Regions from separate parts of the Homo sapiens genome. Here region 2 is linked to region 1. Evidence: fine-mapped QTL for protein levels in blood plasma. A gene starts in region 1. The other region holds a variant in brackets. All regions are shown on one strand. Distances are between the middles of the regions.

What was found. A credible set is the group of variants that fine-mapping cannot tell apart. PIP is the posterior inclusion probability: the model's chance that the variant is causal. Protein levels are from the aptamer-based SomaScan assay of Sun 2018.
Region 2: its variant is the best candidate, but not a certain one, in a credible set for the plasma level of the IL16 protein (Sun 2018, PIP 0.84).

Annotation. Positions count from the first base shown.
Region 1 is chr15:81,191,217-81,199,499 of GRCh38, forward strand. It overlaps IL16 (interleukin 16), which reads left to right and starts at 5,663. Exons shown (of 19, transcript NM_172217.5): 1 at 5,663-5,936.
Region 2 is chr15:81,303,765-81,312,097 of GRCh38, forward strand. IL16 (interleukin 16) reads left to right here. Exons shown (of 19, transcript NM_172217.5): 17 at 2,144-2,402; 18 at 2,656-2,781; 19 at 4,841-8,333. The coding sequence ends at 5,034. STARD5 (StAR related lipid transfer domain containing 5) reads right to left here. Exons shown (of 6, transcript NM_181900.3): 6 at 5,289-8,333. Among named protein-coding and RNA genes, the nearest start is that of STARD5, 16 kb to the right of the region's middle. RefSeq lists enhancers at 1-672, 57-587 and a silencer at 4,790-4,967. The variant T/G (reference allele first, on the strand shown) is at 4,346.

The sequences.
Region 1 (8,283 bases):
AATGCTCTTGGAACTAAACTCTCTTCCCTTGGAGAGAACATTCTGTTTCCTAATCTGTGGCTTCTAGGAGCTAAGAGAGATACTGTGAATATGTTTTTTAAGTTCCATTTAAACCTGGGCCTAATCACATAAATTACGCTAAGGAAATGTCTGGAAGAGCTCTTTGTAAACTGAAAACTACAAACAAATGTAGAAACTCATTACATGGCATTAGTCATTTATTCATTCATTTATGCATTGATTCACTCAGTAAATGTTTATCAACCCTTTATGGGCCAGGCATGCTCTAGTGCTGGGGACCCCACAGTGAACAGGCTGATGAGGTCCCTGTGTGGGACCTAGATGGGGCGGATGGGTGGTATGTAAGTACCCAAGCAGACTAACAAGACAGCTTCAAATGCTGGCAAGTTCTATGAAGAAAATAAAATAAGGAGAGGTAACGGTGAGTGCCTGGTTTAGGTTGAGTGGTCAAGAAAGATCCCACTTAGGAGATGGAGTCAGGGAAGAGCCAGCCATATGAAGATCTGGAAGTGGAACTTTCCTGTAAGAGAAAACAGCTAGGGCAGAAGTCTTAGGGTGACAAGGGCATGGCTTATTCAAGAAAGAGCCAGAAGGCCAGGGTGGCTGTGGGATGCAGCGAGCAGGAGAGGCAGAGGTGGAAGCTGGAGTTTGGGAGATAAACAAGGGTGAGATCATTTAGCTCCTTTGGGACACTGTAAGGAATTTGGGTATTATTTTGGAAAACAACGCAAAGCCTTTGGAAGGGGTGGAGCACAGGGCATTTTTGGGGCAGTAAATATATCTCTCTGTCTGATACTACAGTGGTAGATCCATAACGCTATGCACTTGTCAGAACCCATAGAACTGCACAACACAATGGGTGAACCATCACGTAAGCCATGAACTTTAGCTAATAATCATGTATCAGTATTGATTTATCAATTGTAAAAAGGTACCACGCCAATGCAAGATGTTAATAGTATGGGAAATTGTGTGTGTGGAGAGGGAGATCAGTATTCGGGAGTTCTGTACTTTCTATGCAATATTTCTGTAAAGCTAAAACTGCTCAGAACAATAAAGTTTATTAAATTTTTAAAAAAGTGGTTGGGTGCAGTGGCTCATGCCTATAATCCCAGCACTTTGGGAGGCCAAGGAAGGAGGACTGCTTGAGGCCAGGAGTTCAAGACCAGCCTGGGCAACACAGAGAGACCGTGTCTCTACAAAAAAAAAGAAAAAAGAAAAAATAGCCAAATGTGGTGGCATGTGCTTGTTGTCCTAGCTACTCGGGAGGCTGAGGCTGGAGGATTGCTTGAGCCAGGAGTTTAAGGCTGCAGTTAGCTATGATCATACCACTACCCTGCAGCCTGGGCCACAGAGCAAGATGCTGTCTCAAAAACAAACAAACAAACAAAAAACAGTTTTTAAAAGTAATTCAAAGCCCTTGCAAATTTTATGCTGATCCAATTTATATTTTCAAAAAGCCTACCTGCTATTATGTGAAAAATGGATTATGAAGGTCTGCATAGGAACCAGAATCCCAGTTAGAAGGTGAAAGCTATAATCAGACAAGAGGCACTGGTAAGAGGAGGGTGGCGGCAGTGAAGATGGAGAGAAGCGGAAAGAAAGTGGGATAGCTTCTGGGGATAGAGCCAACGAGAATCACTGATAAATTGGATGTGATGTGGAAGGTTAGAGAGATGGAGGGATCAAGATGAATAAAAACTCACAGAGGGCTTATTCTGGCAGGCACTGTTCTAAGAACCTTACAAGTATTACCATATTTAGCCCAAACAAACCTTGTGAGGTGGATGTTAGTGCACTAGCCAGCCTATAGATGACAAAACCAGTCCACAGAGAAGTGCCTTTTTGCCTGCCTATGATCATGCACTTGGGCAGGGACAGACCTGCGAGATGAACCCAGGAATTTTGGCTTCAGAGCCTGTGCTATGTTCTTCCCACCTTGATACTGAGGATTTTGGCTTGGGAAATTGATGGATGCTAGTGACAATTACCAAAATGTGGAAGTTTAGGGAAGAAACATTTTATTAGGGGGGGAATCAAGAGTACTGTTGGCAGTGTTCCTTTTTTTTGCCTCACTGAATAACAGCCAGGCAATGTTACTTTTGAAATTTAAGTTAAACCCCAGCTGAAGATGTTAAGCAAGTGGTAGGAAAAAAGAGTCAGAATTCAAGGAGAAGTCCAGGCCTGGAGAAGTGAATTTGGGAGTTGTTGGCATGTGCGTGGTATATTTGCTTGTGGACTGGCTTCAGTTGCTTGTCGTGATTGTAAGTATCTTAGTGATGGAATATTACTTTGAAAGGATGCAAGCCTGATGGACAGTTTGAAAGAAAAAAAGGCCAGAGAGAGGGCAGCATGGTCTACATGGAAGTCAGCTAGAATTTTCGTATGAAGTTAAAACCCTTGGTTTGAATCTATATGTTGCTGTGGGCCAGGGAAAGAGGGGAAGAGAGCCGGGGAGCGGGAATCAAGGGACCAATGGCTTCTGACTGCACAGCCTTGGACGTGCACTTTTTGGACATGTAACTTCTCTGAGTCTCAGTGTTTGCATCCGTAAGTGGGGACGTACAATAAAATCATCAAGTTTTGGCCTCAACATTCTGTCTAAGTTGAAAGTGCTAAATGCAGAGAGAATTTATTATCATCATGTCCATTACTGTCAGGTTACATTACTAGTAACATTACATTACTAGTTAAAATTGTTACATTACTAGTTAAAATTGTTAAATTATATTCTGCGTCATGTTACATTACTAGTTAAAATTGTTACATTACTAGTTAAAATTGTTAAATTATATTCTGCTCATGATAATACAGTTCGCATGACCAAAAGTGTACAGCATAAAGAATTCCCAAGGCATTTTATAGATTGCAGGACAGCTCTTTGCTCAGACCTCTGAGCAGCCCTGTCAGATTATTGGGTTATTGTTTCCATTTTGTGGACATGGAAACTGAGACTCAGTAAGGTAAAAGGACTTGCAGTTGACAGAGCCGCTTAGTACAGAAGCTGGGGCTTATTGCTCTGACCCTAAGCTCTTTATTTTGCCATTGTTTGAACAGAATAGGAGATGACCCTGTTGTGTCATTTTAAGGACACACTTTCTTTTTGCCTTCTGAATATGTTTACTTGCCACAACAAACATGTATTACTTTTATAACTAAAATTTTGAAATTAAAAATTTTTGTAATTTTAATTTTTTAAATTAAATTTAAATTTGTAATTGTAATTTTAATTTTTAAAAATTAAATTAGAATTTTTAAAATTAAAATTTTTTAAATTAATTTTTCAAAATTTATAATTTTAATTTTGTAATTAAAATTTTTGTAATTAAAAATTTACTTTTGGAAATAAAATTTTGTAATTAAAAAATAGGAGAATTAGAAGGAAATACAGGTTATTGATTATGAAACTTTAGCAAGCATCAGAATCACTTGTTGAACAGATTTCTCAGTTCCGTGGGCTGGAAGGGCCAAAAAGGTGAGCAGGCTTCTGCTTGGTTAGCTGTTGGCAGCATGCTTCCTCCTCTATTGCCTCATTCTCTCAGTAACACTGTGCAGTAGAAGTTTCTAATTTCATCTGGCAGACAATTAATTTCATCTAATTTTCATCGTAGCAAACTAAGGCTGTGAATGACCAAGATCACACAGGAAGCTCTTGGTTGAGCTTCAAGTGGTGCTTGAACTTCCTAGTTCTAACCAGGGCGGGGCTCTCTCACCTGCGTCTTCCTCCCCGTCTCTTCTGGCTTGCAGTGAGCTGGACTATGGAGTGTTGGGCAGGGTGGAGACTCTTTCTGCAGGATGTCCTGAAGGGCAGAGGGGTGATAAAATTTCCACCTTGAAGCACAAACCACCCCGTATTAGGAAAAATCAGGGCCAAGTCTCAACTACACTTTGGAATAAATTTACCTTCTGAGAGTGAGAAAGAACAGATCTTCGGAAAATAGAGGGAGAGGCGGGAACTGGATTCAGGTGCCGATGACAAGAGAGAGCTTAGACTTAGTGGAGGAGGGGGGCTGTGGGGCCCTCCCAGGCCTCAGGATCCAAGAAGGGCAAGGCCAGCCCCCATAGCCCTGGGGTGCTGAATTGCTCCTCAGCCTCTCTGCCAGAGCAAGATGGAAGTGGGGCCTGAGTCTGTCCTGGCCCCACCGCACCCAGGCCATTGTGAGAGAGATTGTGGGTGTGAGCTGAGCAGGCGACACTGACAGAGGCGCTCACTCTCTGCAATTTAGAAATTCCTTCACTGCACTCCAGACTCACTCCAGACTCAGCCCTACAATGTCCCCTGTGCCTGCTGACAAAGGCAGCTTTATCCCCAGAGTGCTCCCTCCTCCCGTGCTTCCCTTGGGACCGTGGGCCTGTGTTCTCCAGCAGCAGCGGCTAGATCTTTGCAGCCTTGCATGGAATTTCAAGGGCTTCCTACAGGTTGCACCTACACCCTCATTAAAGCCCCCAGGAAGCCCTGAAACATTTGGTGCTGAGCGTTGGGAAACATTCCATTCTTTAGAAGAGAGGTCCATACAAAAACCTCAGCCTAGCATGTACACAGGGCTCACAGAGACTGAGCTTAGGAGAGATGTGTGGGATGCTCTTTGCGGGGCAGATGGATTAAATGCCACCTTATGATTAGATTCTCCAAGGGGCTACGTGGGGGAAAGGCACTCTGGTCTCATGACACTAATGCCAACAGGACACACACAAAAGTGCCCCATTCTTTTATGCTGCAGTTTTCAACATGCTCTGTATACGTTAGGTCATGGGCTCTCGCACCTGAGCACGCACCAAAATCACCTGGAGGCTTTGTGAAAACAGAGTGCCAGAGGTGCTGCTTCAGGAGGTCTAGGCCAGGGCCTGAGAACTTGCATTTCTAGCAGATGCTGCTGATGCAGCTGGCTTGAGGACCACTGAGTTACATAAGCTTCTGAGAGCCAGTCTGTTGTTTTTGGGAAAGGGTGGCACAGACAAGAAATGAAATGCTATGGAAAAAGCCTGGGCTTTGGAGACAGGTGGATTTTGACTTGCTAACTTGCTAACTGTGTGACCTTGGGGAAATTCCACGGCACGTAGTAGGTGTTTAATGAACGTTTGTGCAGTGGCTTTCTTTGTCTGCAAAGCAGGTGATATATTTACCAGATTGATGGCAGGATTGTATGTGATGACTTTTTTCCTCTTTTTATTAAATTTTTATATAATTTGAGAGGAGTTCTTGCTATGGTTTGCCCGGGCTTGTCTTGAATCCCCCGGCTCAAGTGATCCTTCTGCCTCAGCCTCCTGAGTAGCTGGGATTATAGGCACGTGCCACAGCTTCCAGCATGTGATGAGGTTTATAGAAAGCTCCTAGCAGCGTGCCAGGCACATTGCAGGCACCGAGTCATGTCTGCTACCTTTCGGCTCTCCTAGTCATTTCTGTGTTGTCCAAAGAAGGCAGGGGCAACTGGGCTGGACCAAGGAACCTCACTGTGGTTCTGTGGCTCTGCACTGGGTTTGCCTCCTGGGTGTTGCCGGCCAGCCCAGCAGATGGTGGACCTTGTTCTGAGGCTGAGCTTCTCAGCACTGGCAGCCCCCCTTTTTGGATCAAGCCTTTTCACGTGGAGCAGTCAGATGGCTCAGATCAGGAGTCTTCGAGCAAATCCATGCCAGGTGGGACACATTTGTCCTGAGTCACCTGTCCAGAGCAGGTGGTGAATATTGTGTCCTACTCACGGCATCTCAACTATCGGAGCCTGGGATCTGACTCAAAGGCCGGCCTCCGTCTGAGAACTGAGCGTCCATTTCTCAATCCTTGCCGGCTCTGACCCAGGCCTGGGCCACAGGCTGTCCGGGAATAAGTGGTGCTGCAATCCCTGCTGGGCAGATGGAGAGAGGAGCAAGGGAGATGGCAGCCCCGGGGGACTGTGCATAGGGAGGTAGGTGGGCACCAGGTGAGTGAATGTCTGTCAGGCAGCTGCTCTGTCCAGGTGGCCGTTACCGGAGGGAGGAAGCTGGCCTCTCTGACCTGAATGGGGAGGGTCTTGGTTGCTAGGACGTAACTTCATATTTGGAAGTGGTGCTGGGGTCAGGGGCAGGAGCAGAAGCCAGGATTGTGTTGGTAGGAATCTCTGTGTCACCATGTCACAGTTAGGTACAGGAGGAAGCAGCTTCAGAAGGCCAGAGCGGGCAGAGGGATATCGCTTGACCTGGCTCTGCAGCACGGGGAGAATTTGGTCCTGAGATTTCTGACTTTTCAGCCTCGTCTCATCCTTGGCAATGGGGTGTGGAAGGAGGTGGAGGAAAGGAAGGCAGCAGGAGAGAGAAAGGCCACGGGGCACCTGATGGGGGCTTCTCTGCTGCCTGGCCAGACTCCTTTTCTCCAAAGTGGGCACAGCGGGTGGGCATCTCTGCAGATTGACCATGGGAAAAGTGTTCACTCTGCTTGCTTTTTGATAAGGGTCCCGTGACTAATTCCTGCATTGGTAGGTCCCAGGATTGGTGTTTTTTTGTTTTTGTTTTTTGTTTGTTTGTTTTTTTCTTTTTTGGTCCATAGCAAGTTTGCTTTCTGTAGCTGGAGAATGAGGTAACAGCATAAGAATAGAGGTTCCCTGTGGAATACAGGGAAGCATCTTCTCCTCCTGCCCTTATCAGGTGAAATCCTCCCACTTCAGGCTGAGCCATACAAAGACGACCCCTTTGTCCCAGGAGGCCAGTTCAAGCTCCCACTGGGTTCCTGGAAGCAGCCTGGGAGCTGCCGTCTCTGTGGCTCCCCTTCCTATTTCTCCAGTTTCCCCCGGAAGGAGAAGACCGTTCAGCCTTTTTCCTCCTCTGTTCTCCTTCTTTACCCTGAAGTTAAGTGATGGTCAACATTTACGAGCACAGTAGAAGGCACCTCCCCTGCTGCAGATATGACGTGGGCATGAGCCGTCAGGTGGGTCAGACCCTTGAAGCCTCTACTGCTCATTTATTCAATCCCCAGTGAGTCTTTTAAATAAAACTTAGTACCCCAACCATTTCCTGGCCACTCTTCAAGCCCCAGGCACCAAGCTAAAATATTCACATACCTCATTTAATTTAAACCTTACAACAACCTGGAGCTTAGGGAGTATATCCCCAAACCGAGAGGTGAGGAGGCTTGCACAGGACCACTCAGCTAGACGTTCCCAGGACCCAAACCCAGCTTGACTCCAAAATCCATGCTCTCACTGGCTTTGTGGCATGCCTCAATAAATACTTGAGTTTCCTCAACACAAAGATGGTCATATATCCATAGGGTTAAAAAATAATCTCTGTTGGATGCAATTGACTATAGAATTATTATTTTCTAATTGTTTGTATTCATGGAAACCTTTTTAGAATTAAAATCTATCATGAAAACTCATGTATAATCAGTTAAGGCAGAATTATTTTGGCAGAGGCAGACCAGGACCTTGAGACCTGCCCTTTTGTCAACCCCTCCCCCTTTCTGGTTCCCAGCAGTGGCCCAGGGGTATAGGAGTGAGAGGGAGGGAGGTACACTTTGAATTGAAATCTACTGGCCAGGTACAGTGGCTCACGCCTGTAATCCCAGCAATTTGAGAGGCCGAGGCGGGCGGATCACTTGAGGTCAGGAGTTCCTGACCAGGCTGGCCAACATGGTGAAACCCTGTTTCTACTAAAAATACAAAAATTAGCCAGGCGTGGAGGCACATGCCTGTAATCCCAGCTACTCAAGAGGCTGAGGCAGGAGAATTGCTTGAACCCGGGAGGCGGAGACTGCAGTGAGCCGAGATCATGCCACTGCACTCCAGCCTGGGTGACAGAGGGAGACTCCATCTCAAAAAAAAAAAATATATATATATATATATATATATATATATAAAATACATATTTTTTATTGTGCATTTGAATTGGTAATACATTTTCATATATAGGTTACGTTTTGCTATTAAAAAGCAATTCATTGTGAATAGCAATATGCTCATAAACACGGGGAGAAAATAGGCATGGGGCAAAATAAACAAATAGTTCCAAGAACTTGGAGTTGTGGTTAACTAGGAAGGCAGCTTGAAATCAGGAATTTACTTCAAGTTCTTCTTTTGAATTCCTGTTGAAATAAGGACGAATCTATGTCAGTCTTGTAAACTAGACAGTGTTGCTCAGTGTGTGCCAGAAACACTGAGAAGTCTCAGTGGATGTCTCAGGTGGATGTGAAGGACGTTGGGTGGAAGGGCGGAGCCCATCAGGAGGGAGGCGCTGTTCTTGCCACATCTGGAGATGCTGGAGGAGAGGTTTGCTTTGAGTGGGAGCAACTGGTAA
Region 2 (8,333 bases), 110 kb after region 1:
GGCCACTGGGCAGGTCCTGTCCACTCAGCACATCCCAGAGCCTGGGGCTGCGTGGAGAGGGTAGCAGGCCTGGCCATGGGCATCTTTTCCTGTGGGTCCCACTATTCTGGCTCATCCAATCTGATCAGCATTGGCTGCTGCCTTCAGGTCACCTGTACCTGACCCAGATGGTTTCTGGTTCTGCCAGTTTTGTGGAGCCATGCTGCGGCTGCTCGCTCTCTAAAGCCGAGTGCATTGCTGTCATCCCAGGGCTGTGTTGTCTCAGGGTATCCTTTGTGTAGGCTGTGCTGGGCTCATTTGAATTTCCATGCCCAACTGAAAACAAATCCTCCAGTTCACAGCATCAGCCAGCATTCAACATACCACACCCCCTTGCAGTGGCAATCTGGCATGTTCCTGCGTGTCACTTCAGAGTCAATCATGTCAGTGGTGACTTCCTTGATTTCCTGATAAGTTTTCTATCACATAAAAAACACTTAAAACCTGTAAGTCTCTATTTCTCTCACTGAGTGCAGCTGAGTATTACAAAAAGATTCCTGACCGTGTAGTTTACTTTCTACTTGAAGAGGAGGAAAGAGAGCTTGCCTGTGGGAATGGCACTTTGGGTATTTTTCTCTGTCCATGAGTAGCAACTTCTGTCCACGTCATCTGGCCAGTCACCCTTGAGACACTGCAGACAACAGGAAACTAGGAGGAAGGCGCACATGTTGGCTGAGCACATGCACAAAAGCTTCTTTCTCCTTCTGTGTTTGAGCATTTCTCTTCCTTTCCAGATGATTAAAAGGGAACTAACGTAGAGCACCATCCACGGCCATGCTGAGCACTCACTGACCTGTTGTCTAAATTCATCCTACCCACACTTTGGATTGATAAATTGGTGGCATTTATGCTTCTTTTATAGAGGAGGAACCTGAGGTTCCTCCTTTAATTAACTTTAATCTTCGTTGGCCTAAAAATCCTCTAGCATTGAGGAACCTGAGGCTCAGAGGAGAGGTTCTGCTTCATGCTTGGATGTTACAGCCTGGGGATTCTAACCATGTAACAGAATTTTTCTAACACCAAAACAATTTAGAGAAGCAAAGAGCTTTGCTCCTATCATAAAAGCAAAACTACAGGTACCACATTTTAGTGGTTTCCATGCATGCTATCACTCAGTCCTCTTAATTATAATGGACCTCATTAAAGAGGCTGAGGCAGAGACATGAGATATTTTTGTGTGTTTGTTTATCCCACATATCTTGCAGAAAGGGGACCAAGAGGTGACTGGAGGTAAAGAGTCAGAATTTCTAGGGGAGGAGCTATAAAAATGTCTAGACTGCCTAGGAGAGTGTTTCTCAAAATGCATTCTGCCAAATGAGACCGAGAATTTCTCTATGAGAAAAGAATTCTTTGTTGAAACACTTTGGGAATCCCCATAATACCCTGCCAATACTTAGAAATCTGCCATGCAGATTTGCATTGTAGACCCTCTAAATGCCTTTTGCTTAGAAATCTGCTGCCATGCAAATTTGCATTGTAGACCCTCTAATGCCTTTTGCTTTTTAAAAGTAGACAATGTCAGAGCTTTTGTTTCACCCAGTATTCCTCAAGTTTCTTTGATTTTAAAAAATTTTTCTTGGCCGGGTGTGGTGGCTCATACCTGTAATTCCAACACTGTGCGGGGCCAAGGTGAGAGGATTGCTTGAGCCCAGGAGTTTGAGACCATCCTGGGCAACACTGGGAGACCCTGTCTCTATTTTTTAAAAAATAATAGGAAAAGCCTTTTTCTTACACAATACCCGTTAATATGCCATAGAATCAGTGCCTTGAGAAAACTACTCTGGGGACTTCTGACCTAGGGCAGGTGAAGCAAAAGATTTTATATGGAATCCCAACTAGAATCGTGGTGGTACACTATAGGACGTTGTGTTGGGATGGATTCTGAGGGCTTACCTGGTCATTACTGCTGGTGATCTCTGCTCTGGATGGAGAAGGAGGGAATGCTGGCCTCTGTGCCAGCAGCTCCAATCTAGGACACAATTATCTTTAATCTTTGTTGGCCTAAAAATCCTCTAGCATTGACTAACCGGTTCAATCCTCCTCCAGCAAGTATGTGGACTGGACTTGTGTGATTTCTGGTCCTGACTTCCTTTGGTTTGCTCAGGTTCACAGAGTGTTTCCAAATGGGCTGGCCTCCCAGGAAGGGACTATTCAGAAGGGCAATGAGGTTCTTTCCATCAACGGCAAGTCTCTCAAGGGGACCACGCACCATGATGCCTTGGCCATCCTCCGCCAAGCTCGAGAGCCCAGGCAAGCTGTGATTGTCACAAGGAAGCTGACTCCAGAGGCCATGCCCGACCTCAACTCCTCCACTGACTCTGCAGCCTCAGCCTCTGCAGCCAGTGATGTTTCTGTAGAATCTAGTAAGTTCTCCCAACTCAGTGGAAGCCACATGGGCCACATCCTCTTTGGCCATTTGGGGCCAGACCTGATGGGGCTACTCAGTAATTTGTGACCCCAAGAATGTGTGGCTGCCTAGTACACTGCCTGAGACGTGTTTACATGTGCCTGTGTGCAAACACGGGGGCTGTATCACCCCGGGCTCACTTGAAGCCCAGGGCATCTGTGGCCTGGGAGAGGAGAGGATCCCTAACAGAGACCTTGTGTTTTTCTCAGCAGCAGAGGCCACAGTCTGCACGGTGACACTGGAGAAGATGTCGGCAGGGCTGGGCTTCAGCCTGGAAGGAGGGAAGGGCTCCCTACACGGAGACAAGCCTCTCACCATTAACAGGATTTTCAAAGGTGTGGGGTGTGTCTGGTTCTTTGCGTGCTCTCCAGTTGTGGGCATGTGGCCAGGCCCCCAAAAGGCTTCTGGGCACTTTCTGGGCTATGTTGTTTCCCACAACTCCATGTCCTCTTCATAGGCATGCTGGTCCTTTTAGGGCTCAATTCTGCTTTTTCTACTTTTTCTCCTTTGCTCAGACATCCCCTCAATCCCCCCTCTGTTTTGATGGGTCTTCAAAAATACCTAAGTCCTGGGCTTGGTTCGGGTTGGCAGGGCCAGGACTCTAGAGTGGGGCAGTGAGGCACTGGCCTGTGGGGCAGAATTTTAAAGGGGTGCCAAAACACTCAGTAACTCAGATCGATACTATTTTAATGCAGCGTGTTTTTTAAAATTAATTTTAAAAAAACATGTTGGACAAAATATCCAAGTTTAAATCAAGACAGAGTCTGACTTTGTACTGCACACTTGGCCTCATTTGCCTTACCCTAGTCCTGGACACGTCAGCTCCTGCCTTTATTTAAAATGTTGATAGATATTTTGTTCATCAGGGATTGGAGTACAAACCAGTCTGATATGGGGGTCACTTGGATTTCCCTGTGAAAATCATGAATGACTGTGGCTACCATGTAAAACCATCCCTGATTCTTTGGTGTTCCTCAAATTGGAGGTCTCCAAGCCACAGAGCAAGGGGTTGTAGAGAGAGGAGTACTGGACAGGGAGGCAGGTGGGCCAGGTTCTAGTCCCAGCTCTGCCTGTAATGTGCTGAGTGACCCTTCCCTTCTGGGCCTGAGGCTCTTCATCCATAAAAGGAGGTAAAGAGGTACAGGTGTGTGTCTGAGGGCTCTTAGGACTGAGACCCAAAGGGACTCTTAGCTCTGTCCCTCACCCACTATGAGCTCCTGCTGCTGACTGGTTTCGTTAGAGGAAGTTCTGCTGCGGCTGCAGAAACCCAGAAGGTAGAGTGAGGCTTACATGGCATTCCCCCCAGAATCCATGTTAACCCCAATTCTGGGAAAGATATTTCTAATTTTTGAAGGTCAATTTGGAAGGAGCATTGGGTTCAATGTCAAGAGGACTAGATTCCAGTGTTAGTTCTGCCACATGACCTTGGTAGCATGATCTTGGACAAGTCACTTCACCACCATGGGCCCATTTGCTTAAATGTTTAGGATGAGACTGCCAGCTGCAGGGTGATGTTGGAAGGAGAGATGCAGATTCTGGAGCCAGAAAGTCTGGGTTCCAGCCCAGGGCCCACCACTAGCAGCTATGAAGCTCTGGGCCAGTTACTTGAGTTCTTGGTTTCCTCAGCTGTTAAAAGGAAACACAAATAATACACCCCTCATAGGATTACTGTCATAAATGCAAAACATTAGCACAACGCCTGTTAAAATAATTGCCCAATACACTTTAGCTATATTTTCATTACTATCATTAGTATTATCTTCTACTCTTATCAGGATTTGTGAAGATCACTGTGTCAAATGGATGGGAAATTTTATTTTAATATAAACAGTAAAATAGCATTGTTTTCACTTGCAGCTTTGAAATAGTGGGGGCCATATATGGTTGTTTCCTTTTTTA[T/G]GTGGACACAGAGGACTTCGTGCCAGAGGCAAGATCCCTGTAAATATTGTTGCACAAAAATCTCACTAGCTCTCTTCCCATACCACCCAATGCTGATGTCCTCACCACATGCGGAGAACAAATGTGAAGGGAGTAGGATATTGGGTCAGTGTCCAAAGCAGGGTCTGGGCAGGACTCAGCTCCCCAGAGTCCTCTATGAACTATGGACGGTGCTCCAGGCAGGCTAAGGCGTGGAGCTGCCTGATATTTCCCTCCCCTGGGGACAGCAAGGGCTATCCCTTTCCAAAGGCCATGGAGAGCTGGAGCCTGGTGCCCTAACCTCTGAGTCACCATCTTAAGAGATGCCTCATTTTAGAACCACCAACAAGCAAGCTCCCAAGGGATGGTGCCCTGTTCTCTACCAAGCTATCCTGGCTCTTTGGAGATCAAGGAGAGGAGGCAACTTTCCTTGTTCCCCATCATCTGTGGAACCCATTACCTTCTCCCTCATTTCAGGAGCAGCCTCAGAACAAAGTGAGACAGTCCAGCCTGGAGATGAAATCTTACAGCTGGGTGGCACTGCCATGCAGGGCCTCACACGGTTTGAAGCCTGGAACATCATCAAGGCACTGCCTGATGGACCTGTCACGATTGTCATCAGGAGAAAAAGCCTCCAGTCCAAGGAAACCACAGCTGCTGGAGACTCCTAGGCAGGACATGCTGAAGCCAAAGCCAATAACACACAGCTAACACACAGCTCCCATAACCGCTGATTCTCAGGGTCTCTGCTGCCGCCCCACCCAGATGGGGGAAAGCACAGGTGGGCTTCCCAGTGGCTGCTGCCCAGGCCCAGACCTTCTAGGACGCCACCCAGCAAAAGGTTGTTCCTAAAATAAGGGCAGAGTCACACGGGGGCAGCTGATACAAATTGCAGACTGTGTAAAAAGAGAGCTTAATGATAATATTGTGGTGCCACAAATAAAATGGATTTATTAGAATTTCATATGACATTCATGCCTGGCTTCGCAAAATGTTTCAAGTACTGTAACTGTGTCATGATTCACCCCCAAACAGTGACATTTATTTTTCTCATGAATCTGCAATGTGGGCAGAGATTGGAATGGGCAGCTCATCTCTGTCCCACTTGGCATCAGCTGGCGTCATGCAAAGTCATGCAAAGGCTGGGACCACGTGAGATCATTCACTCATACATCTGGCCGTTGATGTTGGCTGGGAACTCACCTGGGGCTGCTGGCCTGAATGCTTATAGGTGGCCTCTCCTTGTGGCCTGGGCCTCCTCACAACATGGTGTCTGGATTCCCAGGATGAGCATCCCAGGATCGCAAGAGCCATGTAGAAGCTGCATCTTGTTTATACCTTTGCCTTGGAAGTTGCATGGCATCACCTCCACCATACTCCATCAGTTAGAGCTGACACAAACCTGCCTGGGTTTAAGGGGAGAGGAAATATTGCTGGGGTCATTTATGAAAAATACAGTTTGTCACATGAAACATTTGCAAAATTGTTTTTGGTTGGATTGGAGAAGTAATCCTAGGGAAGGGTGGTGGAGCCAGTAAACAGAGGAGTACAGGTGAAGCACCAAGCTCAAAGCGTGGACAGGTGTGCCGACAGAAGGAACCAGCGTGTATATGAGGGTATCAAATAAAATTGCTACTACTTACCTACCACATGCCAAGCACTGTGCTCAGGGCTAAACGGGCATTGCCTTTAGTGATCACAGCAGCTTCTACGGTGTATGGTTCTGTGCCAATGTATTGATAAGAGGGCACACACTGTGTACAGTAAATGGCTTATCCAGCTGGTGAGTGATGCGGCAGATTGAGTTTTCTTCTGTGATTCGGTGGAGACTATCAGCCCAAGATGCTTTAAGTGCACAACATTACAGGGAATGCCTGAGTGCCTGGCCAAAGGGATATTTGGTTTGGCCATCTCTGGATGCCTGATTGCCAAGCTCAGGACCAGGCAATGTGACTTTGCATCAGCAACAACCAGCATCCCTTGACCAGGCCTGGGCCAGAGTATTGGTCTCCTCTCAGCCCCTGATCCTGTGAAGTAAGGATGTGGGGGAAGACCTGGCAAGGACACAGATGAAACACAAACAATAGTAATTCTCAGGCCATCATCAGTGGAGCCATGTTAATGTAATCTGATGGCTTCTCCAGGGTCCACAGGAAGTGAAGAATCTGTTTCCCAGCAGTGGACTCAAAACCCATCTGGGCTCCTAACCTTCCTGTAAACCCCTTTAGTGGCTTCATTAGAGCAGGCGTTCAGCTCACTGTTCTATTCATCTCAAGGAATAATGGGCTTAGAGCAGTTTCTGTCCTGCTGGTTAACTTGTTTGGCCTATTCCATTCTGGATTTTGTCAAGCAGTAGACAAGCAATTAGACAAGAACTTGGAGGCACCATTTGTATCCACTTTTTAGACTTAATAGAAACATTGAAGATGAACATAATCTACCAACGAAAGACGTGATTCAATTCAACACTCCCTTCCCATGACCCAGGCTGGGCAAGGAGGCCACGTGATGTGGAGGGCACATTCCTTGCCTGCACAAACTCACCATCTGTGCACGCAGTGGCCTTCCCTAAAATCAGGGAATTGTTTTAAGTCTTATCAAGCAGCCAAGGGATGAAAGAGAAGGTGGGTTTTCATCAAGACTGGAAGGTGGGGACAGGGATGAGCATGGAGCTGGCCGTGGGCCTGGGGTACCAAGAGACTCCTTGAGAGACCAGGCAAAGCAAGTGATTGGGACAGAGGTTATCTGTCCCAGGTTATCTGGGCATAGATGCAGGTGAGCCCATGGCCCTCCCAGTACCTCCTGTCTCTGGCCTGTTTTAGAAGGTTCTCTCCTCCCCAAGGAGACACAACAACTCCTAGGGCCACTGAAGATATAACTATTGCCCAGGTTTCTGGTCTCTAGGCTGGGGAAGTCCTCTGGGTAGGAATCAGCAAGAAGATCCTAAAACAAAAGCTCATCCATTTGCGTTCCATGATGCTGGGATTTACACTTGAGGCTTAGCTTTGCTCTGCCAACTTCTTCAGAGCTGACACAGGATGAAGGCAATGCCATCCTCAAACACTGCAGGCATCACAGCTAACAATTGTGAAGTCGTCTTAACTCACCATAAAAAGGAATCCACTCCCAGGCAGCCCTACTTCTTTGCTTTGCCCAGCATTTTACTGATTCATACATTATCTCACTTGTGCCAACACTCAAGAAGCAGGCTACACTGACACTGGTATTCCTGCCTCCATATTTTCTTTAAAAGACAAATCAAAGCAGATATATTAAGTGACTGTTCAAGAGCACACTTGGCCCAAGTGGCAGAGCTTGGACTGGATGCATGTTTTCCAGCTCCTCATCCAGGGCTCTGACCAGTTTAACCTGATGCAGTCACGTGGAGGAGCAGTGCAGGCACAGTATGTCCCATAGGCCCAGTGAGATGCATTCTTGGTTGGCTGGCCTTCCACTTGGCTACACAGGGATGTACAAGGCGATCCCATCTTGATAAGACCACCACCTCAGAGTATGGAGCTCAGAGAGGGCAGGCATGAAGTTTCCTTGGCTGGTGCACCTAGAATTGGCTGAACTCATGAGAAGTTGATATAGAACAGTGCTTGCCACAGAGCGGGGACTCGGTAAGCACTTAATGAATGAATGAATTCTAAGTCAATCCAAGAGTCTGATGATTTCTTGAAAAGGGTGTTAGCTAAAGGATCTTAGGCATGACTGTAGAATTTGTAGTTGCAATAGAACAGAGAAAGAGGAAGCTTTCTGTCTCCTTAACACTGAGCTGTCATGTTTTAAAGCTTGCTCACATCTTGGCACATTTAAGAGACAGTCACCCCAGGACTCAAAAATAGGGAAGTAACAGTAACGCAGGGGAAACGTTTTCTGTTTGGAGGAGCAAAGGCTGAGAACACTGTGAAAACATTTTGCGCGCACAATAGTAACCTGGGTAAATGCAGCGTGAAGGGATTTTAGT